Linked DNA regions of Homo sapiens. The protein of the gene in region 4 purifies or fractionates together with the protein of the main gene of each other region. This does not show direct contact. Each region holds a gene or a part of one and is shown on either strand. Other genes may lie near its edges. The genes, in order: ACVR2B, BMPR2, NOTCH2 and LRRIQ1.

Region 1 (7,025 bases), on a different chromosome or scaffold from region 4:
TTGGGGGGACACATTCTTTCCATGAGATGGAATGAACTTCAATAGTATATTTTACTGGCCTGGCACAGTGGCTCATGCCAGTAATCCCAGCACTTTGGGAGGCTGAGGTGGGAGGATCACGAGGTCAAGAGATCGAGACCATCCTGGCCAACGTGGTGAAATGCGTCTCTACTAAAAATACAAAAATTAGCTGGGTGTGGTGGCACACGCCTGTAGTCCCAGCTGCGCCAGAGGCTGAGGCAGGGGAATGGCATGAACCCGGGAGGTAGAGGTTGCAGTGAGCCGAGATCATGTCACTGCACTGCAGCCTGGTGACAGAGTGAGGCTCCGTCTCAAAAAAAAAGTATATTTCACTGAATTTGATATATACAAAGTAATTTCAGCCTGAGATCAGTATTAAAACGAGACATTTTGCATTCCATTTTTGTACTGTCATCAAAATCCAGTGTGTGCCTTACAGAACATCCTCAACTCTAACTTTCCACATTTCCAGTGCTCTGCAGAACATTTGGTTAGTGGCTACCATATTAGACAATGGAATCTCAGAAGGGAAGGTAGAATTTATGGTGTAATAAATGTCACATGGTGCTTGTCACAAGATCAGTCAGTGGTTAGTTGGTTCTTTAATAATTCTTCAAGTCTTTTGTGGTCTGTGCTTGGCCGAGTGTCCTTGGGAAACAAGCCATTTGGCTCTTGCATTTCAGTGGACATCCTGGACACTCAATGCTGTATCCTACAAGAACTCCTGACACCTGTCTCTGTACTCTGTACTTGGGGTTCAGATCAAAGGGCTTATGGGGGTGGGGTAAACAGTATTCTAAGTGAAGTGACCAGAGCTCTTGGAGAGGGACCTGCCTCCTGTCTATCCCATCAGGAAGTGCAGGCCCTGATTACTCTGATAGGCTGACCCAAAGAAGTTTCTTGGCCACTTCCTTGGGGGAGGGCGGAGGGAGTGAGCTCATGAAGTGAAGTGACTTTCATCCCTCAGGCCTAGTGTAGCGGTAGCTGCCAAGGACATGGGCTACAGAGCCATGGGCCGTGGGTGCCCCTCCCAGAGAAGAGTGTTTTCTGCTACCTGTCCTTGTATCTGCTGGGCACTCGAGGCTCTGCCCTGTCTGGGTGGGCTGCCTTTTGGGAGGAATGGGTATCCTCCCTAGCTCTTAGGGGCCCTTTCAAGGCAGATGATGTGAGAAACCTGCCCATCTTTCCAGGCCCTATAGCTGGGTAAAAACATAAGATCTAAACCCTATGGCCTCCCATCACTTGGGTGGGCCTCTACTGTGTACTACTCTGTGGGTCTTTCTGGGCATCAAGAATCTCCAGAAGCACCTGGACCTCTGCTGGCACTTCACCTAAGGAACTCCTGTTATAAGGAGCCAATGAAGAGCCCACATTCTATACAGTGGTCCTCCATGTCATAGACCCCTCTGAGAATCTGATGAAAGCTGTGGACCCTTCCTCCAGGAAAATGTAAATCGGTATATGTGTGCATGTGTGTGTACATTGTATGCACCCACTCTGTTTTGTACAGATACTGGGAACCTACTGCCCCCTGATTAGACTCCTTGAAGTCCTGGCTGCCCTGCACATATCCACTGTAGTAGTCTTAAGGGGCAGCTTGTTCTGCGGGGGAGGGGTGCTTTTTCCACCTTGGTACCTCACTTACTTTGCCTTTTGTGATCCTGCCGGATGTTCAGATTCTAGCCCTGGTCTCTCTTTCCAGAAAGCTGTCCTCTTGAGTGCCAGCCTATGCATTCAGCCCCTCTGCTTGGGAGCTCAGGGTAGTGCAAATGAGAACCAAGGAGTATCGGTTCAGGAGTTTAGATCCACTCACGGATACTGACCTGTCACCATGGATTGGGATCTGGAGGGTTGAGGACTGGGTCTGGATAATATTTTTGCTAGTGACTGTAGATAGACTCTAGATAGTCCTGAGGCAGGGTCCTGGTTGCATGGGCCTCACTGTAGAACAGGGTTTCTCAACCTTGACACTATTACATTTTGGGCCTGATGATACTCTGTTGTGTATGGGTAGTGGTGGGTTGAGCTGTTCTGTGCATTGTAGGATATTTAGCAGTATCCCCGCCTCTACCCACAAATTCCAGTAGATCCTCTTTAATCATGTCAACCAAAAATGTTTCCAGATCTTGCTAAATGTCCCTGGCAGAGGTGAGAGCAAAATCATCTCAGATTGGGAACCACTGATCTAGAATGTTCTCACGCTTTCAAAGAGGTCTACAGTTGTAAGAAGTAGGGGTAACGGCTTTTGAGTGCATATCCATCCCCCCACTCTGGATGCAGGGTTGGAGGTGAGGTTCTCCTCAAAGCCTAGGAGATTCCTGCTTAGTGAAATCTGCTCAGCACGTGAGAGTTTGGTTCAAAATTAGTGGTTCTGGTGTACAGCTTACCACCGAGGAGAATCCTGGCGTCCTTGAGTTTTCCCAGAAGTGGTTCAGGTTTCAGGGAGGCGGAGGCTGTGGGTGGCTGGGCAGCCTGCCTGCCCGCACCCGCCCACTCGCCTCTGACCGTTGCCTTAAGGCTGGCACTCAGCCTCTTCCTCCCGTACACGCAGAAATGCCAGGAAGTGCCTGTTGCTGGGGACTCTCTGCCTGCCCAGCAGCCCCTCTCTGCTCACCTGGGGGCCTCAGGAGCTAAGGCTAGCCCTGTCTGCCAAGCGGAGCACTGGGGTTGTAGCAGGCCGTGGGCATGCCCCTTCCCCTGAGTGGACCTGCCATGTGGCGCTCCGGGGAGCCGCAGAGGCTGTGGGCCTGGAGCCCCCAGGCCGGGGACACCAGGGCAGGTGGGCAGCCTCTCCCCAAAGGTATGGGTGCAAGTCTCTCCCTCAGGGTGTGGTGGCCAGATGGGAATCTGAGGGCAGGGCCAGGCTTCCTGCTGTGGACCTGGGGAGGTGTGGGCAGCGCTGCCTTAGACAGGCAGCCGACACTGGAGGCCCTGGTGGAGCGGTTGGTATCTGTGGAGGCTTGTCTATTGGGCTTGGCAGGCTGGCAGCCCCCTGTGGCTGCCCCCATGTTTATTTTCTACTCCTCCCCTGGCCTGCTTCAAGCTTGGCTAGGGAACGCTTCTGTGGGACTCTGTCTGTCTCATCTTGAACTCAGTGAGACACAGTTTGCTGCACTGGGAAGTGATTACAAACTGGACTCTTAGGGTGGAGGAAGCATTTTTCAAAGACCCAGTTTCCAAGTGCTCCACATCACTGGTATGTGAAGTGCTTGCTGAGGTTCAGACTTCCTAGTTCCATCTGTTTTTGGGGTCTTTACAAAGGGGACTTTATTTCCTTCTCAGAATTCTTTCTCTTCCTTCCCTCCGGTTCTATCACTAATTCTGTGTTCCAAAACAGACACCCACCCCCTTGTTCTGGGCTTTCTTTTTTGGTCTCTCATTCTCTACCAGACTTACGGGTCCATCCCAGCCCTAGAGGTGCCTATTCCTTGTGGTCCTGGGGGTACTGCTACTGAATGCCCAGGTTTTCTGGTGGTGGAAATGCTGCTGCCTTCTTCTGACTCTATTACATTGCTCAGTGATGTCTCTGACTAAGGCAGTGGTAGGTACTGGAAATCAATGGATAAAGCAGGCTGGGATTGTTCAAGGGTCAGCCATGTCTCTTCCCGGCCCAGGACCAATAATGGCTTCCCGCCTTCGGACAGCCCCATGCTTTCCCCTGGTTATTCTAGGCTTGCTGTACACATGCATGTGCCTTTTTCAGATTCTTTCTGGGACTGGCAGCTCCAACTGGGTGTTTTCATTCATGGACGCATGACCTCTGGAAGCGGGTGTGGAAAGGAAGCCTGTCCCACTGGGCAAATGTGAGGCCCTCTTCCCAGGGGAATGTTGTCTGGATGGGTCTGACCTGCTGGACAATGGGCCTTCTCCCTGGCCAGTTTCTGGGCTGGAGCTGAGGTGTTTTGTGAGGCGAGCTCATGCTCTTTGCATGTGTTCCTCTGCCGACTATTTCAGTTCCACTCTGACAACCAAGGAGGCTAAAATTAGTTCTGGAGAAGGAAAAGGAAGGCTGGTTGGAAACCCAAGCCCTTGGCTGGAGAATGGAGGAGGCTGCTTCCCAGGTTTGTGCCTGAGCATTTCGGAGGATGGGATGAGACCAGCTGTTATCCGTCCATCTGAGGAGAAGGAGGGGTCCCTGTGGCCTCCCAGACTTGAACCAATTAAAACAGGAGACTAACTTGGAAGCTGACTCTCTCGAGTGTTGATGCCAGGATATTTTTTCCTTCTGGCTTGTGCAGTGGCGCACAGTGTTTTCAGGTATGAGGACAATGCCTTTTAATGAATGTCCAGTGCCATTGACAACCCTCCTCCCCCTCCCCTCCAACTGGATTATGTGTCCGTTGATTTAGAAAGCATGCATGAGTTTTCCCAGCCTGGGCTGGCAACCATGGTTTAAGAACTCTTATTTTATGCACTTTTTGGGAATTTCCTTCTCACTGAGGTTTGATATTGGGTTAGAGGGGAGTCCTGTGGCCCAGGGCTCACACAAGAGGTCCCGCTTCTCTGTGTAGTGAGGGCATAGTGAATCAAGGCTCATCTGCTCTGGGCCTTAGAAACCAGAGGAGCAGAAGGGTTAGAGAGATGAATTCTGGTTTCTTTTCCCACCTGGCTGGCTCCTTCTGTGAACCTTCTGGCTGAGGGTGAGACCTACAGGGCTGTGTGGGAGTAGAAGGAGGGCCAGGGCAATGTAGTCCTATCTCCCCTGCCCTGAAACCTCGCATCCAAACCTCCCATCACTGAGAGGTTAGCCACCCTGGGGTATAGTTGGGGGAGTAGAAGTCACTTCCCCCATAACTAATTTTCCCATTTAAAAAAAATTTATTACTTTTTAAACAAGTAATATACCTACATTATATTGCAGAAATTTAGATGTTACAGATAATACTAGGGTCTCCTTTTATCACTTCTGTTCCCCATCCGAGGCCCCCTCCAAAGGTAATCCTTTTAAGATTGAGATGTATTCTTCCAGACATTTTTACTTGTGCATCTATAGAAATACTTATAGAAATAGAGAGGCTTTTGGCCGGGCGTGGTGGCTCATGCCTGTAATCCCAGCACTTTGGGAGGCCAAGGTGGGCGGATCACCTGAGGTCAGGAGTTCAAGACCAGCCTGACCAACATGGAGAAACCCCGTCTCTACTAAAAATACAAAAAATTAGCCCGGCGTGGTGGTGGGTCCCTGTAGTCCCAGCTACTCAAGAGGCTGAGGCAGGAGAATGGCGTGAACCCGGGAGGCGGAGCTTGCAGTGAGCCAAGATAGCACCACTGCACTCCAGCCTGGGCAACAGAGCGAGACTCCATCTCAAAATAAATAAATAAATAAACAAACAAATAAATAAATAAATAAATAGGCTTTTTTCCACCTAAAATGGTATTCAAGCATTTAATTGAAGTATAAAACATATACAGAAGAATGTACAAGTAATTACCATAAGTAACAGCTAAGAAGCATTTTCACAAATTGAATACACTGGTTTAGTCAGCATCCAAGTCAAGAATCAGAAATTTTCCAGCCCCCCATCCCCAGCAAGCCCTGTTTTGTTCCATTTCAGTCTCTGCCCACACCCACTAAGGTTAACTACTATTCTAACTTCTAACAGCATAAAATAGTTTCATCTGTTTCTGTGCTTCATATGAATAGAACCTTACAGAATAAACTGCTTTGTGTCCATCTTTTCCTCACCATGTTTGTGACTTTAAGCTATGTTGGATGTCATGGCTTTTTAAACTCGGAGATTTGCTTTGGCAAACTTTCTGATACATATGGATCTACTTTGATCTTTTTAATAACTACGTAATATTCTAAAGTTTAAATATAGACTACATTTTACCTAGTTTCTTACTGATGGACTTTGTGATTGTATAGAATGTATGCAGACTGTTTCTCAAGAGTAGATGAGAAAATAACATCTGGATCATAAGCACGTATGTTATTGGTTTTAATAGATACTGAAAAATGGTTATACCATTTTATTTATTTATTTTTTGAGGCTACCCAAGTGATGGCAGTGAGGGTAGAAGCTGGGTGATATGGCAGTTGGCTCTCTGCGGTAATCTGTGAACATCCTTCCTACCTCCACACCCCAACCCCTGCTGAAATGCTAGGTTACAGAGTTTAGAAATAGCCTGGTTTCATGAAGGGTGCGCGGACATGGGAAGGGCTCACTTCCACTGGCTTAATGTATGAGGAGACCTGGAGATAACCTCTCGTGCCTGTGTCTCCTACCTTGTGCCTGAGTCTCCTGGGTACTGTGCTGATGAGGGAGGTAGCACTGGACTAGCCAGGATGTGCTGGTCTGGGTTTGGGATGGAAGTGCATATGTATGTTCACTTACCAGGCTCTATGCTGCGTGCAGACTCTGAAGAGACTAAGGCACTTGTTGAAGGTCGCTGAAGAGCTCTGGGTAACAGCACTACTGGCAAGCCCACTGCATTTGACAAAATCTGAGTGTGACAAATTCTGATTTCATATGTCGTGATAATGACGTTGGGGGTATTGGAGAAACCTGTAGAAAAACTATTTTAGAGTCTGGTGAGAAGCTTTTCATGACAGAAGGAGCTCTGGTGAGTTTCTGTTCCTGGCTGAGTGTATGCCTTGTTCCCTGTATAAGTCTCTGCCACAGTTGGCAGAAGACTTAGGGAAGATAGTTTGGGATGACTTGTTCACCAAAGCTGTTGCTTCCCAGTCTTGTTCTTCAGCTTGCTGCCTACTCTTTACTGTTATGTTGGGATTCTTTATGTAAGTCCACTTGTCAGGCCCTGCTAATGGATTTAGATGACACTCAAGTTTGTGGAACTGTTTCTAGTACAAATGATACTCCAATCAGCTTTCCCACATTATACATATGATGTGCGCTGTTTGTGTCTTAGTCTGCTCAGGTTGCCATAATGGAATACCATAGATTGGGTGGCTTAAACAACTGAAATTTCTTTTCTTACAATTCTGGGGACTGGAAGTTAAAGATGAAGGTGCTGTCAGGATTCGTTTCCAGTGATTCTTCTCT
Region 2 (7,693 bases), on a different chromosome or scaffold from region 4:
CACTCCAGCCTGGGCTACAAGAGCGAAACTCCGTCTTTAAAAAAAAAAAAAAATTTACTGGTTTTACCCAACTTGGCTAGGCAGTCTGTCTAATGCTGGATTTCCTACTCCAAGGCAGCATTCAAGGAGCCTAAATTATCAGTATACTTGAGGGACTTTTTCCCTAGATGTACTCCACTGAAGGAATCTTGAATGAAAAGCTTGCTGGGTTTGGGGGGTCTTTTAGGTGTACCTTAAAGTGTTAGCAGACACAGATTAGGACAATGCTGAAAGGCCAGCCCAGCTCCAGAATTCCTGCAGGATTGATTGATGCCTCAGTTGCAAATGTGTTGCAATTCAACTTCTCCCTCTGCCCAGTCTTGCATCCCTCAATCCCCACAGAGGTTGCTCTTGCCATCATTAGGTAATAACCTCCTGCATACAAATTTCAGAGTTTCAGTGTCTATTTCCTGTGAACTCAAGTTGCGATGGGTCCCCTGATGACTTATATCAAACATGTAACATGTGTGAGAAATAAACCTTTATTGCAATAAGATGCTGAGATTTGGTGAATGTTACTGTAATTTAGCCCATCCTAATTAGTACAGATGCCAAACCTCACCTGCATCACCAGTCCTTTGTTCTCAGCTGAGCTTGACTTACATTGTCTGCCTTTTGTCGTGGACAGGTTTCTTGCCAAGTCTTAATTCTGTTCTTTGATGTTCTTTCTCACTGTGAGTGAACAGCCATGTCCCAACTGAAATATCACAAGAAGGAACAGAAAAGGGAAGAGGGTACATATCTAGTTGTCTACCTACCAAGTCAGCGGCATGTGTTTTTTCTTGTGAATTTCCTAAGACCTTTTCTTTATGTTCTATATAATTTATCATACATTTATAACATGTACGGTAGTCCTCCCTGCCCCTTATCCACAAGGAACTTGTTCCAAGACCTCCAGTGGATGCCTGAAACTGCAGACAGTACTGAACCCAATTGCTATAAACTGGAATACATTTCTATTATGTCTTCTACCCACAAATTTAATGCCTTTTCCATCTTAACTAAGCACTTATTACACATTGTGGCCATCACTTTTGCAGTTTGAGGTATGGCAGCAAAACTAGCATGAATTTATTTTTTCTTCACAATTCAGTTTCACAGATAGATTTTTTTTTTTTTTTTTGCCAGAGTCTCTATCGCCCGGGCTAGAGTGCAATGGGCAACCTCCACCTCCTGCGTTCAAGTGATTCTCTTGCTTCAGCCTCCGGAGTAGCTGCTGGGATTACAGGCACGTGCCACCACTCCCAGCTAATTTTTGTATTTTTGGTATAGACGGGGTTTCACCATGTTGGCCAGGCAGGTCTTGAACTCTTGACCTCAAGTGATCCTCCTGCCTTGGTCCCCCAAAGTGCTGGGATTACAGACGTGAGCCACTGCACCCTGCCAAAGATTCATTGTTACCAGCAATCTTAGCAACCTCAGCCTATAATTTTTTTCCCTCCTTATTAAGTCAAGAACTCTGACTTTTTTTTTTTTTTTTTTTTTTTTTTTTTTTTTTTTTTTGAGACAGAGTCTTGCTCTGTCGCCCAGGCTGGAGTCCAGTGGCATGATCTCGGCTCACTGCAAGCCCCACCTCCCGGGTTCATGCCATTCATTCACTGCCTCAGCCTCCCGAGTGGCTGGGACTACAGGCGCCTGCCACCACGCCTGGCTAATTTTTTTGTATTTTCAGTAGAGACAGGGTTTCACCGTGTTAGCCAGGATGGTCTCGATCATCCTGACCTTGTGATCTGCCTGCCTCGGCCTCCCAAAGTGCTGAGATTACAGGCAAGAACTCTGACGTTTTAACTTACAGGAAGCACTTTACAGCTTCTGTATGGCTGAATTGCCAGCATCACTACTCTTGTGCTTTGGGGCCATTATTAAGTAAAACGAGGGTTAGTTGAACACAAGCACTTGGATATTGCATACTGCCACAGTCAGTCTGATAAGAGACTGCTACTAAGTGATTAAGGAGGTTATAGCGGATACACTGTACAAACCATGATTCACATCCCAGAAGGACAGTGTGGGATGGCAGCGATTTCCTCACAGCTAGTTAGTAACAGTACTCAATTTAAAATTTATGAGGCCAGGCGCAGTGGCTCACGCCTCTAATCCTATCATTTTGGGAGGCCAGAAGGGCGGATCACCTGAGGTCAGGAGTTCGAGACCAGGCTGACCAACATGGTGAAACTCCATCTCTACTAAAAATACAAAACTAGCCGGGTGTGGTGGCGCATGCCTGTAATCCCAGCTACTCAGGGGGCTGAGGCAGGAGAATCGCTTGAGTCTGGGAGGCGGAGGTTGCTGTGAGCTGAGATCGTGCCATTGTGCTCCAGCTTGGGCAACAAAAGAGAAACTACGTCTCAAAAAAAACAAAAACAACAACAACAAAAAAAAACACCACTTATTATTTCTGGAACTTTCCATGTAATATTTTCAGACCGTGGTTGACTGCAGGTAACTGAAACGGTGGATAAGGGGGAACTACAAAAAGGACACTTAATGTTTCTTGGAAAAAATCTTAAGCAAATAAAAATTGAATGATGAAGTACTTGATCTCAATTTGAGGAAGATAAAAGTGTACTACGAATTAATAAACTTTAAACTTTCTGCACCTCTAACATACTAAAATCCAATTTCTCTGAGTGCTAGAAACTCTCAGTTCTTGAAAGACAAATGGTAAAACAATACCGTTTCTAATTTAGACCTTTTGGGCAAAACAAAATACAGTAATAAAGCTATAAAGAATCGGTCGGGGGCGGTGGCTCACGTCTGTAATCCCAGCACTTTGGGAGGTCGAGACGGGCGGATCACGTGAGGTCAGGAGTTCGAGACCAGCCTGGCAAACATGGTGAAACCCTGTCTCCACTAAAAATACAAAAATTAGCCGGGCGTGATGGCGCCGCCTGTAATCTCAGCTACTCGGGAGGTTCAGGCCGGAGAATTGCTTGAACCTGGGAGGTGGAGGTTGCAGTGAGTCGAGATCGCGCCACTGCACCGCAGCCTGGTCGACAGAGCAAGACTCCGCCTCAATAAATAAATAAATAAATAAATAAAACCTAAATAAATAAAGCTAATGAATCAAAGCATATGCTCTTCGTCTTTTTAAGGGATTTTACTAGGTAGAATTTTTTTTTCTCTGTCTAAAGGGTAAACAGCATAAACATATTTCAACTAAAAAGAGTCTTAGAATCCGGGGTTGGTATTGCTACAACCCCTAATTATGGAAGATGTTTAGTATAACAGAACCAGTTTAAGGAATGTGGAGATTTATTTACATCAAATTCAGATAAAGAGGTAACAGCGGACTAGAAGAAGCAAGCAGAGCATGACTTAAGGAGTCTATCTATGACTGTATCTGTGGAACTGCCCTTAGCCACAATGAAAGACCAGCAAAACCAGCCTTCAGCATAACCCTCCTGCCTGGTAGGAGATGGGAAGGCCAGACTTCACCCCTCAAGATCGCCCTCCCACGCGCATTTTCCACCTCGCAGCTAAGAATTCAGTCCAGACTTCCGATCATGGCGCCACGCACGTCACCTTCTCCCCTCGCCGCCAGCAAAATCCCACCCACGTCGGCTGACCCCGCAGCGGGGTGTAAGGGCGGGAGGGATCCCGTCTCCTATACTGGTCGCTTGTACAAACCAGATCCAAAAAACGCACTACACAAATCCTTGGAAACTGCGGTACCAACGGGATCTTCTCAATTCCTTGAGTGCAAAATGATCCCACTCTCTATCCCGACACAACTCTAACTCCATTTTCCTTTCACGTGCCCTAAAAAGCCCTCAAGGCCCCCAGCCTTGGTGAATCCAGGCCCTCTCTCGGGGTGGGCACCGCGCTGTACGGACAGACGCGCGCACGCAGCGGGACGATTTATAGAATTAAAAGTCTTTTTTTTTTTTCTGGCTTCGCATCCTTGCAAATACTCAATATTCCTGTCAACTAAGAAGGCTAAGGGAATGGGCGGTTGAGGAAAGCAGGACGTCGATTACAGCGAACACATCAAAGGGGTGGTCTTTCCAATTCCGGCTTTTGTTTGAGTCAGAGGGGAGCCTGAGGAGGCCAAGGTCTCCGGTTCTGGGAAAGGCGGGTCCATCCGGATTCTTTGGGCTGCGGAGAGGGAGGTTCCAGCCCCGTGAAACAACAGAGGGCAGTTCTGCCCCTCGAGGCTTTCCTCCGAGAGTACTGAGACGGAGACGCCTCAGTCGGGAGAAATCCCGGAACTCGGAGGAGTCTGCTGAACGCCGAACAAAAGGATGTGGCCGTCGTCTCTTAAACAAATACGCGAATCCCAAGCCATGCACATTTGGAAGGCATGTGTATGTGTGTGAAGGAGAAAGGCCACCGCTGCCCACCGCAGCCCCACCCAGCCCTCGGCCATTCACCGGAGAGACGCGCTGCGGTGGGGCCTCGGAGCCCTCAGCCAGCCCCGAACGAGGGGCGGGGCCGGGCGGGGCCGTGAGCGCGCAGGCGCAGTGCGGGCTTCATCCCGCCGCCGGCGCCGCCGCCGCCGCCGCCCGCTCTGCACCACAGGCTAGAGACAGACAGGGCCGGGAAGAGCCGGAGACTGAGGAGGAGGCGGAGGCGGCGGCGGAGGCGGGGCGACTCCGGTGACCGGGAGCGCCGCAGACTGGCAGCTGCGGCGACTCCCCCCTTTGTGTCTGGTCTGCTCGGAGCCACTGGAAGTGCCTCCCGGAGGGACGCAGGGTGTCTCGCCGCCTCCCTGCCCACCCCCTTCCCCGGCTACCTTCATCCGCCCTCCCGCCGCCCCCCGCCCTCGGTCCGCGACGCCCGAGTTCCGTCAGGAGCCCAGAGCTGCGGGAGAACGAGGCGGCGGCGGCGGCGGCGGCGGCGGCGGCGGCGGCAGCAGCAGCGGCTTCCTCGGGGGGTTGTGATTCGCTCACAGGAGCCATTGACGGGAGAAGAGGAGGCTTTCTTGGTGGAATTTACCTCAGGCAAGATCGAGCCGCAGGAATAAAAAGCGAGGAAGGGAAGGGAGCGCCGCCGGGAGGACTAGAAGGGGCAGCCTCTCACACCCACTCCGCCTGCCGTCTCGGGGAGCCCGGACCGGGGCCGCGACCGCGACCCCTCCCCTCCCCCGCTCCTACCTCTCCTCAGCCTTCGCCAGGGCCTCCCCAACCCTCTCACGGTTGTTCTGCGAAGGCGTGGGGACTGTGAGCTTGTCCATGGAGGCAGGCACCTTTTTTGATCCAGTCAAGGAAGAGGATTTGTTGTTTTCGAAATCAGAGTGAAGGAAGCACCGAAGCGAAACTTAAGGAATCCTGCCTTCCCGGAGCCGCGGGCGATGCGACTAGGGCTGCCGGGCGCCGCCGCCGCCCGTCCGGCTTCGTCCTTCCCGGCAGTCGGGAACTAGTTCTGACCCTCGCCCCCCGACCCCGGATCGAATCCCCGCCCTCCGCACCCTGGATATGTTTTCTCCCAGACCTGGATATTTTTTTGATATCGTGAAACTACGAGGGAAATAATTTGGGGGATTTCTTCTTGGCTCCCTGCTTTCCCCACAGACATGCCTTCCGTTTGGAGGGCCGCGGCACCCCGTCCGAGGCGAAGGAACCCCCCCAGCCGCGAGGGAGAGAAATGAAGGGAATTTCTGCAGCGGCATGAAAGCTCTGCAGCTAGGTCCTCTCATCAGCCATTTGTCCTTTCAAACTGTATTGTGATACGGGCAGGATCAGTCCACGGGAGAGAAGACGAGCCTCCCGGCTGTTTCTCCGCCGGTCTACTTCCCATATTTCTTTTCTTTGCCCTCCTGATTCTTGGCTGGCCCAGGGATGACTTCCTCGCTGCAGCGGCCCTGGCGGGTGCCCTGGCTACCATGGACCATCCTGCTGGTCAGCACTGCGGCTGGTGAGTAGCTCCGGCCGGCACGTCCCGGCCACTGCCCCTGCGGGTGGCGAGGGAGGGAGCCCGCAGAGGCCGAGGCCTGTGCTTGCCCTTCGCCATGCGTCCCCCCGATCGCGGTGCAGCGGAGCTGCGACCCGGTGCCTGCGCGCCTGCCCCATGCCTTCCAGGGAAATCGCCTTTAATATTCTTGTGTATTTTCCTATCCCCACTTCCATATTCCCACCCCACCCCCCTTTACGGGGTGAAAAAGACATATTGGGTGTGGTATCTTGACATTTTTAGCTGTGAGGTAATGCAACGATTAAAAATAATATTTTAATCACCAGTGAACAGTGCTTATTATGAGATCTCTGGAAACAGACCTGTAGATTTTTAAAATTATTATTATAAAGAAGCGGTTTTGGCTTATAGTAAAAAGAACATCAACTAGAGAACACACACTTGAACCTTATTTTGAAATTTAGATCACTCTGGGAATCCATGTTCCTTTCATTATTCAGAAATGTTACCGAATGAATAGAATAAATGTTGAGGAAGCCAGAACTGTGAGATTCTTGATATATTGTATTATACGGTTTGATAACTTTACTGTTAGTCATCTGGCATCTATCTATTGGCTTTGCTGTCGAGACAACTTTGACCTGACATTAGACTTCTAGGAGATTTGACTCCGAAAGTTCTTTGACATTTCACTAAAGTCTAAAGGGTGGTAGTCATCCTTTCCTTTGGATATTTTCATTTCAGTTCTCAGAAACCTTAGGAAAAAGACCTTATCTTCTATTTGCAACTATTTTTTCAAGCAGCCTTTTGGTGATTTGCTTTTAGAAATTTTCAGGAGTGAATTCTACATATAACTCGTACACTTGGTTTATGATGGGCAAATGGATTGTGCTTTTAAAACGAGTAAAGGACCAAATGACCCTTTCGAATTACTTTTTTTCTTTTGATAAGTGTGTTTCACATTAAACAAATTTCTCATTGCTATGTTAGATACAGAGGTTACTTGCTTATTTTCATTTTGAAAGTCTGATCTAGGAAAATGCCGAAGAAAATTTGAAGTTTCCTTTTATGCTTTTGCTATTGTTGAATAATGTCTACTGTTGATTAATGTCTGTTAAATTGATGATAAATCTATATGGTTCTGTTAAAATAATTTGAACTTCTGAGTTTACTTTAAAACTGATATTTTAATATTTTTAATAATTGTAGTTGCTTTCAGAGTAAAAATGATTTTTCTCTAAATTTCTTTATATTGTGTTAGCTATTTAAATTCTCTAGCCATAAGCCATGTGGTTCCTGTAAAATATGGAGTAAAAGGCCTTAAACGTTCCATGAGCAGAAATCTCAGAACATAGGCTTTTCAATGTTATTTGTTATTCTTAACCTTTTTAGAATATAGATTCTCATTTATGATGACGTGCTCATAATATTGTGATCAGAACTGATAAAAGTAAGAGAAAAAGCATTTATTTAAAAATAAACTTAATTTTTGTTTGGTAATACAATCATCTTAGAATAGTGTCTCTTAAAAGGGAGAGAGTAAAAGAATCACTGCTTAAAAGTGGTTGTAGTCTTTTTTTTCTTTGGTATTGCATAGCACCAGATGACAAAATTTGTGAAGCTGGATTTCAGACCTGTAACAGTAATGATAATAGCTAGTATTTATTAAGTGCCTGCCATGCACCATCAGCTATTCAAATAACTTTACATATATTTTTTCATTTCGTCTTCATGACAATTCTATGTTGTAGGTTATTATCATTCCCCTTTTCCATAGAGGGAGAGTAAAGTACAGAGAATT
Region 3 (7,025 bases), on a different chromosome or scaffold from region 4:
ATAGAGCTGTTTCAACCATAGGGTTAACTACCTTCTCCTTCTTGAGTACTTTATGGAATTTTCCATTCCTACAGATGGCTGCACCCCATTGATGTTGGCTTCTCTCCGAGGAGGCAGCTCAGATTTGAGTGATGAAGATGAAGATGCAGAGGACTCTTCTGCTAACATCATCACAGACTTGGTCTACCAGGGTGCCAGCCTCCAGGCCCAGACAGACCGGACTGGTGAGATGGCCCTGCACCTTGCAGCCCGCTACTCACGGGCTGATGCTGCCAAGCGTCTCCTGGATGCAGGTGCAGATGCCAATGCCCAGGACAACATGGGCCGCTGTCCACTCCATGCTGCAGTGGCAGCTGATGCCCAAGGTGTCTTCCAGGTAAAGAACATGAGAAGAGTCACTTGAATAATAATTCCTATGGCTCTATAATGTTTTATCGTTTTTAAAGAATTAATATCTCATTGAATTTATTCAATCATTTGAGAGATTAGGGCAGGTATTAGAGTCATGCTTGGTAGATGGGAAAGTGGGAAAAGGGAGGCAGGCAAATTGACCTAGCTATATATAGGAAGATAGTGATAGAGCCAACTGCAGACAACACCAGTCTTTCTGATTATTAGTGATAATTTGTTGTGCCAAGATGCCTCCCAAATGCGTAGATTAGATGAGAGTGATAGCTGGTCCGGAGCCTTTGACTAGTATCCGCTACTTCTTATGGATTGGCCTGACTGTATGGGCTTCTAGCTGCTCATTGGCAGTTTTCTTGACCTGAGTTCATATTATATTCCCTGATGCCTGTTTATCCTTATGAGGAAATTGGAAGCATTCTGAATCACCTTAGGCTGTATCCTGACTGAAGTTGTGATATTTCCCCACATCCCTCTTCTTTCCTGAGAAAGTAGAAGGCTCATCACTTTACATCAGCCATTATTTATTGAGCATGTATTTATTTATTCATGCAACAAATATTTATTGATTGATCATGATAGAATCTTGGGCACAAAGATAACAAGACTTTCCCTCTCCTCCAGGAATCTACACTGTAGCCTCAGCTCTGATGCCCTTGTTTCTTCACTGAGTTTCATTATTTTCCTTCATCCAGGTGACTCTCTTTTCTGTACTTTCTCCTCTTCTAGATTCTGATTCGCAACCGAGTAACTGATCTAGATGCCAGGATGAATGATGGTACTACACCCCTGATCCTGGCTGCCCGCCTGGCTGTGGAGGGAATGGTGGCAGAACTGATCAACTGCCAAGCGGATGTGAATGCAGTGGATGACCATGGTAGGGATGAAAGGCAGGGATTTGGATTCTTACCTGCAAAGCATGCCTCTGACGAGGGGAATAGAGTTACGTGACCCTTAGAGAACTGCCTGAGATCCAAATACGTGAGAGATTCACTCATTCTTTCATTCATGCATTTATTTAACATGCTGAGCTCAGAGATCCAAGCCAGTAGGAGATCCCTAATTAAAATGAGGGATTTTTAATGAGGGTTCTTGGACCTCAGAGCAGATACATGAAAGGTGTTCCCATGTAGTTTCCTAGGCATAACACTTGATTTGAGGATTTATGAGAGCTGACTTCTCTAGGAGAGTTGTAGAATATTCTCAATATAAATTCTGACATGTAATATATAGGTTTTTATCTTCAGTATGTAACAGGGTAGATTCTGCCATGTAGGGGACATGAATGCCTCATACAAGTGATCCTTTCACCTAGAGGTCTTCTGCAGGCTAGGCAGCCTGTACTGAAGTATTTCTAGAACAGAGGAAAAAGAAGAGATTACTTTGGTTTTTCCTATAGACCCCTACAGAGAACTGCTTCCTGCTGATCTCTGGGGAGTTTAAGATTTCATTGTGCAAGTCATAGTGTCTTATACTAAGAGTAGGATATGTCTGTTTATAAAAATGTTTCTCCCCTGCAGGAAAATCTGCTCTTCACTGGGCAGCTGCTGTCAATAATGTGGAGGCAACTCTTTTGTTGTTGAAAAATGGGGCCAACCGAGACATGCAGGACAACAAGGTACAGTTTGTGGGCTCTGAGCTTGAGGAGGCTCATAGCAGTGCCTCAGTTATAAGCCCATTCCCGTTTCTCCTTACAGCTTCTCTTGTTATATGTATAGACAAAGATGGAAGCAGTTTGGGCAGACACTGGGTTTCGAGAGCTTGATGAGGATATTGGGCTTGTCCAGGCATGTGTCAGGATGGAGTTCTCTGCCCTCTCAGTACTCAGCTTGCAGTAGGCTGGCTATAGATAGCTTGGTGTAACTCTTTCTCTTCCCTGACATTTCCTTTTCTCCAGTTGTCTCTTCTGTTCATAATCACTTCTTTTTCTCGTTTTCTTTCTTTTTTCCCTCCGGCTGCTTTTTTTTCTGTCCTTGGATACCCTGATGTTTTCCTGTTTGATTTTTCTCCATCTGAGTTTTTTGTCCTGCTTCCTTCTCTCATTCATCTTCTCTCAGTTTTCTTTGTTTTCCTTATCTTAGTCCTTTCTTGCACATGTTTTGTCTCTTCTTTCACTGTTTCCCTTACTTTTCCCAGTTCTGTGCATGCCTTAGTTTTTTCTCTTCCTACCTTTCTTATTTCTAACTCCTTTTCCTATTATTTCTTATTTCTAACTCCTATTCCTACCTTTCTTATTTCTAACTCCTTTTCCTTAACCTTATTTTGATAAGCTCAGTACTCTTTTAAGTGAGTCTCTGGCTCAGGGGCATGCTTTATTTTATGAATTCCCAACTAAAGAGATGTTCCCCCTAAGGGGCAAAATTGTTTTTTTGAGGAGAGGTGAAATAATCTTACTTTTTTTATGTGTAAATCACAGATACACATTCAGTACATTGGTAGAGGCACAGCCTATCTGTGGTGTTAATATTTCATCGGGGAGATAATTAGGAAAACATGTCTAAGGGGGTGATAATAAAAAAGATTGAGAAAAACTGCTATATTCTCAAGAGTGTTATTAACATGTGTTCTGTGATGGGCCTTTTCTGTAGGAAGAGACACCTCTGTTTCTTGCTGCCCGGGAGGGGAGCTATGAAGCAGCCAAGATCCTGTTAGACCATTTTGCCAATCGAGACATCACAGACCATATGGATCGTCTTCCCCGGGATGTGGCTCGGGATCGCATGCACCATGACATTGTGCGCCTTCTGGATGAATACAATGTGACCCCAAGCCCTCCAGGCACCGTGTTGACTTCTGCTCTCTCACCTGTCATCTGTGGGCCCAACAGATCTTTCCTCAGCCTGAAGCACACCCCAATGGGCAAGAAGTCTAGACGGCCCAGTGCCAAGAGTACCATGCCTACTAGCCTCCCTAACCTTGCCAAGGAGGCAAAGGATGCCAAGGGTAGTAGGAGGAAGAAGTCTCTGAGTGAGAAGGTCCAACTGTCTGAGAGTTCAGTAACTTTATCCCCTGTTGATTCCCTAGAATCTCCTCACACGTATGTTTCCGACACCACATCCTCTCCAATGATTACATCCCCTGGGATCTTACAGGCCTCACCCAACCCTATGTTGGCCACTGCCGCCCCTCCTGCCCCAGTCCATGCCCAGCATGCACTATCTTTTTCTAACCTTCATGAAATGCAGCCTTTGGCACATGGGGCCAGCACTGTGCTTCCCTCAGTGAGCCAGTTGCTATCCCACCACCACATTGTGTCTCCAGGCAGTGGCAGTGCTGGAAGCTTGAGTAGGCTCCATCCAGTCCCAGTCCCAGCAGATTGGATGAACCGCATGGAGGTGAATGAGACCCAGTACAATGAGATGTTTGGTATGGTCCTGGCTCCAGCTGAGGGCACCCATCCTGGCATAGCTCCCCAGAGCAGGCCACCTGAAGGGAAGCACATAACCACCCCTCGGGAGCCCTTGCCCCCCATTGTGACTTTCCAGCTCATCCCTAAAGGCAGTATTGCCCAACCAGCGGGGGCTCCCCAGCCTCAGTCCACCTGCCCTCCAGCTGTTGCGGGCCCCCTGCCCACCATGTACCAGATTCCAGAAATGGCCCGTTTGCCCAGTGTGGCTTTCCCCACTGCCATGATGCCCCAGCAGGACGGGCAGGTAGCTCAGACCATTCTCCCAGCCTATCATCCTTTCCCAGCCTCTGTGGGCAAGTACCCCACACCCCCTTCACAGCACAGTTATGCTTCCTCAAATGCTGCTGAGCGAACACCCAGTCACAGTGGTCACCTCCAGGGTGAGCATCCCTACCTGACACCATCCCCAGAGTCTCCTGACCAGTGGTCAAGTTCATCACCCCACTCTGCTTCTGACTGGTCAGATGTGACCACCAGCCCTACCCCTGGGGGTGCTGGAGGAGGTCAGCGGGGACCTGGGACACACATGTCTGAGCCACCACACAACAACATGCAGGTTTATGCGTGAGAGAGTCCACCTCCAGTGTAGAGACATAACTGACTTTTGTAAATGCTGCTGAGGAACAAATGAAGGTCATCCGGGAGAGAAATGAAGAAATCTCTGGAGCCAGCTTCTAGAGGTAGGAAAGAGAAGATGTTCTTATTCAGATAATGCAAGAGAAGCAATTCGTCAGTTTCACTGGGTATCTGCAAGGCTTATTGATTATTCTAATCTAATAAGACAAGTTTGTGGAAATGCAAGATGAATACAAGCCTTGGGTCCATGTTTACTCTCTTCTATTTGGAGAATAAGATGGATGCTTATTGAAGCCCAGACATTCTTGCAGCTTGGACTGCATTTTAAGCCCTGCAGGCTTCTGCCATATCCATGAGAAGATTCTACACTAGCGTCCTGTTGGGAATTATGCCCTGGAATTCTGCCTGAATTGACCTACGCATCTCCTCCTCCTTGGACATTCTTTTGTCTTCATTTGGTGCTTTTGGTTTTGCACCTCTCCGTGATTGTAGCCCTACCAGCATGTTATAGGGCAAGACCTTTGTGCTTTTGATCATTCTGGCCCATGAAAGCAACTTTGGTCTCCTTTCCCCTCCTGTCTTCCCGGTATCCCTTGGAGTCTCACAAGGTTTACTTTGGTATGGTTCTCAGCACAAACCTTTCAAGTATGTTGTTTCTTTGGAAAATGGACATACTGTATTGTGTTCTCCTGCATATATCATTCCTGGAGAGAGAAGGGGAGAAGAATACTTTTCTTCAACAAATTTTGGGGGCAGGAGATCCCTTCAAGAGGCTGCACCTTAATTTTTCTTGTCTGTGTGCAGGTCTTCATATAAACTTTACCAGGAAGAAGGGTGTGAGTTTGTTGTTTTTCTGTGTATGGGCCTGGTCAGTGTAAAGTTTTATCCTTGATAGTCTAGTTACTATGACCCTCCCCACTTTTTTAAAACCAGAAAAAGGTTTGGAATGTTGGAATGACCAAGAGACAAGTTAACTCGTGCAAGAGCCAGTTACCCACCCACAGGTCCCCCTACTTCCTGCCAAGCATTCCATTGACTGCCTGTATGGAACACATTTGTCCCAGATCTGAGCATTCTAGGCCTGTTTCACTCACTCACCCAGCATATGAAACTAGTCTTAACTGTTGAGCCTTTCCTTTCATATCCACAGAAGACACTGTCTCAAATGTTGTACCCTTGCCATTTAGGACTGAACTTTCCTTAGCCCAAGGGACCCAGTGACAGTTGTCTTCCGTTTGTCAGATGATCAGTCTCTACTGATTATCTTGCTGCTTAAAGGCCTGCTCACCAATCTTTCTTTCACACCGTGTGGTCCGTGTTACTGGTATACCCAGTATGTTCTCACTGAAGACATGGACTTTATATGTTCAAGTGCAGGAATTGGAAAGTTGGACTTGTTTTCTATGATCCAAAACAGCCCTATAAGAAGGTTGGAAAAGGAGGAACTATATAGCAGCCTTTGCTATTTTCTGCTACCATTTCTTTTCCTCTGAAGCGGCCATGACATTCCCTTTGGCAACTAACGTAGAAACTCAACAGAACATTTTCCTTTCCTAGAGTCACCTTTTAGATGATAATGGACAACTATAGACTTGCTCATTGTTCAGACTGATTGCCCCTCACCTGAATCCACTCTCTGTATTCATGCTCTTGGCAATTTCTTTGACTTTCTTTTAAGGGCAGAAGCATTTTAGTTAATTGTAGATAAAGAATAGTTTTCTTCCTCTTCTCCTTGGGCCAGTTAATAATTGGTCCATGGCTACACTGCAACTTCCGTCCAGTGCTGTGATGCCCATGACACCTGCAAAATAAGTTCTGCCTGGGCATTTTGTAGATATTAACAGGTGAATTCCCGACTCTTTTGGTTTGAATGACAGTTCTCATTCCTTCTATGGCTGCAAGTATGCATCAGTGCTTCCCACTTACCTGATTTGTCTGTCGGTGGCCCCATATGGAAACCCTGCGTGTCTGTTGGCATAATAGTTTACAAATGGTTTTTTCAGTCCTATCCAAATTTATTGAACCAACAAAAATAATTACTTCTGCCCTGAGATAAGCAGATTAAGTTTGTTCATTCTCTGCTTTATTCTCTCCATGTGGCAACATTCTGTCAGCCTCTTTCATAGTGTGCAAACATTTTATCATTCTAAATGGTGACTCTCTGCCCTTGGACCCATTTATTATTCACAGATGGGGAGAACCTATCTGCATGGACCTCTGTGGACCACAGCGTACCTGCCCCTTTCTGCCCTCCTGCTCCAGCCCCACTTCTGAAAGTATCAGCTACTGATCCAGCCACTGGATATTTTATATCCTCCCTTTTCCTTAAGCACAATGTCAGACCAAATTGCTTGTTTCTTTTTCTTGGACTACTTTAATTTGGATCCTTTGGGTTTGGAGAAAGGGAATGTGAAAGCTGTCATTACAGACAACAGGTTTCAGTGATGAGGAGGACAACACTGCCTTTCAAACTTTTTACTGATCTCTTAGATTTTAAGAACTCTTGAATTGTGTGGTATCTAATAAAAGGGAAGGTAAGATGGATAATCACTTTCTCATTTGGGTTCTGAATTGGAGACTCAGTTTTTATGAGACACATCTTTTATGCCATGTATAGATCCTCCCCTGCTATTTT
Region 4 (7,025 bases):
ATTTCCAAGTAGGATAAATACAAAGAAAATGCTACCTTGGAATAAATAATACAATTATTGAAATTCAAAACAAAGGAAAAATAAAGTCTTAGAAGCATCTGGAGGATAAAAGACGCATTACCTAAAAAGGAGTAACAGTAAAACAAATAGCCATCTTTAAGTAAAATGATGGAAGAAAGAAGACGATTCAAAAAACGTAAGTATTCAATGATAATGGTTTCTTTGTTTATTAGTGTTCTTTGAATCCTGACTCTTCCTCCATTTTCTGGACTCAATTTTTAATTTCCTGTAGTATACACTTAAATAGTTGTCAAAAAACATTTTTGGATGCTAGATTTTCTCAATCTTTGTTTGCATATTTGAAAATATTTTGTTTTGTTTTTTGTTTTTTAAGATGGAGTCTCGCTCCGTCGCCCAGGCTGGAGTGCAGTGGCGCCATCTCGGCTCACTTCAAGCTCCGCCTCCTGGGTTCACGCCATTCTCCTGCCTCAGCCTCCCGAGTAGCTGGGACTACAGGCGCCCGCCACTGCGCCCAGCTAATTTTTTGTATTGTTAGTAGACACAAGGTTTCACCGTGTTACCCAGGATTGAAAATATTTTTAGTTTGCTTTTAAAAATGAATGGTCAGTTTCTTCGGGTGTGGAATACAGATTTATTACCACCCTTAACAATGTAAAGATATGACTTTGTTGCATATTTATTTTTGCCTGTGCTATCTATGATTGCAAATTTGATGCCTTTTCCTTACATTCTTTTGAAGCTTTAGGATTTTTCATTTTATACATTCATCCACACATATTTACTGGTTTTCTACTAGGTCAGGCACTTCTCTGAGTGTTTAAGATATGACAGTACATAAAATTGAAAATAATCCCTACTTTCAAATGCGATACACAATTTCCAAGGAGGAGAGATACAAAGAAAATCACACCTTGGAATTAAATAGTACTATTCAAATTCAAGACAAAGGAAAAATAGTGTTGGAAGCATCCAGAGGCAAAAAGACACACCACCTAAAAAGGAGCACAGTAAAACTAACAGCTTACATTCCCCAGAGGTCTGAAATATTGCTAGCATCTGTCTAAGTGTGTTGTGTATGTGTGCATGCAATGTTCGGTCTTTCTCCCATGGCTTTTTGTTGTTGTTTTTAAGAAAACGTATTTTTCTATTATTTTCTTCCCTTCAGTTTTTCTCAGTTCTTTATTCAGGAACTCCTACTAGTCATATGTTGGAGTTTCTGTGTTAATCTTCTTTACCTCCGACATATAATTTTTATCTTTGTTATTATTTGTTGTTTGGGGAAAACATCTCATTTTGAAGTTTTTTTTTAAGTAATCAGCTATCCAGCCATTCTATTTTGATTATTGGTTTAAGTGAGTCGTTTTTATTTGAACACTTGAAATATGAGGTTATTCCTGTTTAAATATTTTTTCTAAAATATCTTTATTTAAATTTTTATCTAGTTTATTTAATAGTTTGATTTTCTCAGAAATTGGTTCTTCCTTCTGCTGATTAAAATATAGTCTCATATCCTTTTTGTTAGTTTCCGTTAGATATTTGCTCAATTTTGTTGATCTTCTTACTTTTGGTTTAGGACTCTAGTAAAAATAATATTTTCTCACCTAACTCTAAATATTTCATTAAATGCAGTAGTATGTGGTTATCAACTATTTTGATCATTGAGAAGGGATAAGATATGTGAGTAGGCTGGTTCTGTATATTGTTTGTATGTAGGGACTATCTGGCTTTCTTGGTACCATAAGTTTCACAAAATAATTCCTGTTTTTGCAGTCTCAATACTAGCTCTGAGTCTTCTTTATCAGAACTCTCATTCCAGAAAGTTTGAAGTCCTTTTCTTTTACGTGGTTTTTAGCCTGTGGTTTCCCTTTTGTTGTTGTTGTTGTTTGCTTGCTTATTCTGTGTCTTTCTGATTTTATATGCTTTCTATCTTCAAGGAAATCTTCAATTCATATCTGGGTGGCTTAGAATACATGTAACATTAGAGTATCAACTTAACATGATTCAATCTCCTAAATATTAAAAAAGTAATACCCTTTAAGATAAATGACTTTAGTTTCTCTAAATAAATTTTATAGAAACTTTATTAAGACTTCAGTTTTAGTATTTGTTTTCAATCTACATTTCAGATGACATTTTAGTAACATCTCATGTTTAGTTTATGCTGACTACCATGTATCTTACTTTGTTTTAGGAGTATATTAGAAACTTGCATTTACAAATGGAAGAAGAAAGAACAAGATTTAAAGACCAACAAGAAAAAGAAAAAAATTCTTTGTTAAAACAGCAGAATAATGCAGCTGTTAAAATTCAAGCTAAATATAAAGCATTTGTTGCCTATCAAAAATATGGCCCAATTATTAAAGAGCAAATTGAAAGTAAGAAAAGGAAAGCACAAGAGTGGAAGGAAAAGGAAGCAAAAATACGACAAAAGGAGGAAGAAAATCGAAAAAGATTAGAGGAGGAACAAAGGATAAAAGAAGAGAGAAAAAAGCAAAAGGAAGAGGAAAGGAAAAGGAGAGAAAAAGAATATGAAGAAAAAAAGAATATTGTGAAACAGGAAAGAGAGCAACTAATAAGCAAGGAAAAAATAATATTAAGAGAAGATGCAAGCCAACAGCTAATAATAAGTAGTGCATTAAAGAAGAGCGGATATAATAACAAACATTTAAGTCTTGAAGATATTTCAAATGATAAGGGTGATATAGCCAAAAATCTAGTGGATGAAAATTCAAAGAAGCAGGAAGATGTTCTCCTTTGGCTAGTTGAGGAATCAAATATGAAAGAAAATGTAGATAGACAGACTATATTAAAAGAATCAATACAAGTAAAGTTAAAAGAATCTATATCAAGCCAAACAATTCTGGCAGATTTTAAAATGGAAGAAAAAAATGAAAACCTAGCAAAAAAACGATGTTCAGAAGAATTGGTCAAGCAAGAAAGAAAATATGAAAATACAGATAACAAAACTGAATTGGGAAACTCTGATCTAAAAGGAAATCTGAAAGAACAGTTTCCATTGCAAGAATTAAAGTCTGATGCACAAAAAGAAGAAAAAATCATGAAACATGTCATAAATGAGAATACAGGACAAAAAACCCAGATAATATTAGGACATAACCAAGAAATCAGTGAGGTGAAAACCAATGAAGAGCAGAAAATAATCAAAGATAATCAGCAGAAAAAGATACAAAAAGTAGAAAAAGAAGAGATACAAGAACAGAATGGATTATTATATAAAGATAAGGATACTTTAGTTATTTCAGTGAAACAAAGATCACTCTCACTAACATCAGAAAATTCCAAAGATGTAAGAGAAAACGTAATATTACAAGAAAAAGAAATTTATTCAAAATCCAAAGAAATTGAGGAGAACCCAAAAGACAATGCTTGGAATAGTGGCATTGTGATTTTTAACACAACTGATACCATGATAAATATAGAAGGCAAAAGAAATGACCAAGATTATGTGTTAGGTAGACATGCTCCTTGTGAGGGCTTGAGTAACTATAATGCAGAAAGCTCCATGGTATCTAAAGAAGTCAACTCTCTTAAATCTGAGATTAGAAATATTTCAGAAAAATGCCATGAAAATGCACCTGAACCTGATAGCATGACCTGCTGTGTATCAGAGTCAACCCTTCTATATTCTATTGAAGAAAGGAGACTAGCCTGGATAAAATCATTTAAACCTTGGCTTGAAATTTTCAAGCAAAATCAACAAAAGAAAATTGTTAGAAGAAAGAGACCTGTGAAATGCCCAGCCAACATGACACCCGCTTTGGATAAACTGGAAATTCTTCGATGTGGCCCTTGGGATACTTTACAGCAGGTATTTCTAATTTTATAATAATTTTTCACATTTAATTACAATTAGCTCTTTAAAGTATAACTTTTCAGATCTTAGAAAAAGAAATATTTTGTATACAAGAATTGTCTCTTGTTTAATAAAGTTATGAATGAAATATTACCCCATTTGGGAGGGGATATATCTCAACAAATTGTTCGAGGCATCTTCCCTAAGTGACACTCTATAAAAAGCTTTGATTTATATTTTTTAATATCTTGAAGCCTGTGTTCAAGGGCCCTCCAGTCATTATTTAAACCTCTAAGAATGGAAGCATATAGAAAGTTAGGGTTAGAATTATAGTAGGAAACTCCTAAGTAAACAGAAGTTTGCTTTAGACTTGAGCCACCACACCACCTAGTGGCTGCTTTTGGAATAAAGTGGATTTTATGTCCATGACCACTGTTGTGAAAGAAGGGCTTGCATGATAGAAGACCCTGAAGACCCTAGAATTCCCATCTAGCAACAATTATTTAGCGTGTGCTATTTAAAGGTGGTGCATATATGTCTGAAATGTAAAATAGTTGTCATCAAATGTTACTAATTTTATATGGTTATGGAGAACATAGTTTCAACCAAAATTAAGACACAGAAACTAATAAACGTATAGAAAAAGAGAAAATAATATTTTAAACAGTGTAACACTAGAAAGCACTTATGATTAAAATACATATATTTAGCTAAGGCCTGAAAGTCAAAAGTATTCAATAAAGTTTATTTAGTTTCTTGATAGACTTTCTTGCTAGACAGATGCCTAGGAGAAAGAACAATCATATTAATAGATAAACATTATTTTGTTTATTCACTCAGCAAATATTCATCTATCCAATAAGATGATCAATATTTATTGGTTGACTAATAAACAAAGAAAACCCAGTCTTTTACGGAGCTTAAACACACATAAATACGTTATTATGGATCTTGAGAATTGCTGTAAATAAGGCTTCAGAGTATCCTGTGAGAGAATAATAAAATAGTGGGATTTTGAAGATATTTCTGGTATATGAAATAGCAATATAAGAGATGAGAACTGGGACATACACTTTTAAGTGTCTTTTATTTCCTGGGTAATGTATTTGCCACATCTGTCAGGTCTGCAGAGCTACATATAGAATCTCTCATCTGCTCTTCTCCAATTTTTTCCTTGCGCATGTTATCTCTGGAATCATGTTTTAGCACTTTTCTTTCTCTAACATATTGCTGCAGGCCTTCCAATATGATAACATTAGCAATTATTTAGTTTTCCTCATGAGTATCTGTTAAAGCTAGGCAAGAGTGATGGCTTCATGCCTACAGTGTACTTGCTTCAAAAGTGAAAATGAAGTTACAGAAACAGTAGTGTTCCTCCCTTGCTTTGTAGGTCTCTGTTCTGTCCAATGAGAAGGAAGTTAAGATGTGTGAGCCTCTTTCTCCTTGGCATTTCTTCTCCAGCTGACTCTCTGTTCCTTCTTTCGAACGTTTGTCAATTTACATAAAATGATAATTAACTCTTTCTTTTACTTCTTAGAGCAAGGCCTGGCAAACTATTAAAATCTATAGAATACCTGAAGCTTTGTAGAAATGTGGATTCTGATTCAATAGGTCTGGTGATCCACCCATTCTCCATTCTTGCAATGATTCTAAATGATGATGTTGGTGCTGGTGAGTGGACTAATCTGAGTAGCAGTGTTCTAAAGGGCACCATAATCCTCTCATCCCTTCTTAAAGCAACTATCTCAAGCTTTTAATTTAGCTTTGAAGCATCAAATAGGCAGTATAAAGATGAAAAATACATGTGAATGTGCCATATAGATGCTAAAATGTTAAGAAAATATCATCTTTTGTTACCAGACAACTCCTGTAAAGATTCTGTTTGGTAGATGGCTTACCATGGTGTCTTTATTCACCACTGTTACTACTGATCCATGGCTCAGTTTCTTTTTGACTTTCTGATCTTTTAGCTTCAGATCTTTATCCTTATCCTGATCACTCACTGCCATCCTTGGGATGTCCTTCTGGAGATCAACTTAGAAAAGTTTATTGTCTCCCAGTAATGCATTCATTTTGCTTACATTAATCTCTTACTTTGAGACTTCAAGACATAAATCGGATCTTCGTGTTGTTCATACTTCTTTACACATTGCCAGGCAAATAAAGATACTCCTCAAGTTACAATGAAGTTACATCCAGATAAACCTACATAGCTTACAACTGGGCAAAATCATCTGGCAACGTGGTACACTGTAGAGTATTTGTTGTTTACCCTCATGATCATGTGACTGACTGGGAGATGCAGCTCCCTGCCGTTGCCTGACATTGTGAGAAATGATCATACTTTATATTGCTAGCTTGGGAAAAGATCAAAATTCAAAATTTGAAGTATGGTTTCAACTAAATGTCTATTGATCTCACACCATCATAAAATTTAAAAAAAATTCTACGCTAAACTATCTCTTGTCAGGAACTATCTGTAATGACTTTCATTACCTGATTATAGGATGGATGAGTGGGGGGATGAATCAATTGATGAATAAAGAATTCCAGTCGAAATATTTAATGTAGAGGACGGGTTGATGGGTGCAGCAAACCACCATGGCACGTGGCACGTGTATACCTATATAACAAAACCGCATGTTCTGCACATGTATCCCATGTATACATGTAACCTAAAGTATAATTAAAAAAAAGAACTGCAATTGAATGTTAATCTTATCTCCTCATTACTACCAGTTTCACAGTTTAGATAAAGTATATTGACTGAAGAGGAAATGAATGTAAAATTACTGAAGTGTAGCTTATTAGACTACTAAGTTCTATGTTAAGACTGTTTCTAATTTTATTTCTGCCACTTATGGCTGTGACACCTTATGCAAATGCTTGACCTGTATGAGCCTCAGTTTTGTCTTTCACAAACTGGAACAGCAATATCTATTATATAGGATCACTGAGTTTTAAAATGCTGTATGTAAAGAACATGGCCCAGGGCTTCTAATACCACTTGTCAAATGTGGGTCTCAAGCAAGCAAAGAGAAGGCAAATGGATTGTTTTCGAGGGCTGCTTAATAGCCCGTTTCATCAAAAAAGTTATAAAGTTGAAAATACTAGACCATTGGGTTATATGCAGTAATATCTCAAAAGAGAAGACTAAAGAGCAATAATTATGGGTAATGAATATATTTTT

Evidence for each region.
Region 1: the proteins of LRRIQ1 (region 4) and ACVR2B purify together in Homo sapiens (affinity purification with mass spectrometry; 2 studies listed by BioGRID and IntAct, with this or other methods). This does not show direct contact.
Region 2: the proteins of LRRIQ1 (region 4) and BMPR2 purify together in Homo sapiens (affinity purification with mass spectrometry; 2 studies listed by BioGRID and IntAct, with this or other methods). This does not show direct contact.
Region 3: the proteins of LRRIQ1 (region 4) and NOTCH2 purify together in Homo sapiens (affinity purification with mass spectrometry; 2 studies listed by BioGRID and IntAct, with this or other methods). This does not show direct contact.

What each region holds. Positions count from the first base shown.
Region 1 is NC_000003.12:38,456,869-38,463,893, forward strand, and holds part of ACVR2B (activin receptor type-2B precursor), read left to right. Parts: intron 1-2,562; exon of another isoform or gene 2,563-2,706; coding exon of another isoform or gene 2,707-2,821; intron 2,822-7,025. UniProt on the Homo sapiens protein: Transmembrane serine/threonine kinase activin type-2 receptor forming an activin receptor complex with activin type-1 serine/threonine kinase receptors (ACVR1, ACVR1B or ACVR1c).
Region 2 is NC_000002.12:202,371,656-202,379,348, forward strand, and holds the start of BMPR2 (bone morphogenetic protein receptor type-2 precursor), read left to right. Parts: upstream 1-4,671; 5' UTR 4,672-5,819; coding exon 5,820-5,895; intron 5,896-7,693. UniProt on the Homo sapiens protein: On ligand binding, forms a receptor complex consisting of two type II and two type I transmembrane serine/threonine kinases.
Region 3 is NC_000001.11:119,912,663-119,919,687, reverse strand, and holds part of NOTCH2 (neurogenic locus notch homolog protein 2 isoform 1 preproprotein), read left to right. Parts: intron 1-74; coding exon 75-376; intron 377-1,134; coding exon 1,135-1,282; intron 1,283-1,925; coding exon 1,926-2,023; intron 2,024-2,993; coding exon 2,994-4,382; 3' UTR 4,383-7,025. UniProt on the Homo sapiens protein: Functions as a receptor for membrane-bound ligands Jagged-1 (JAG1), Jagged-2 (JAG2) and Delta-1 (DLL1) to regulate cell-fate determination.
Region 4 is NC_000012.12:85,053,335-85,060,359, forward strand, and holds part of LRRIQ1 (leucine-rich repeat- and IQ domain-containing protein 1), read left to right. Parts: intron 1-2,212; coding exon 2,213-3,850; intron 3,851-7,025.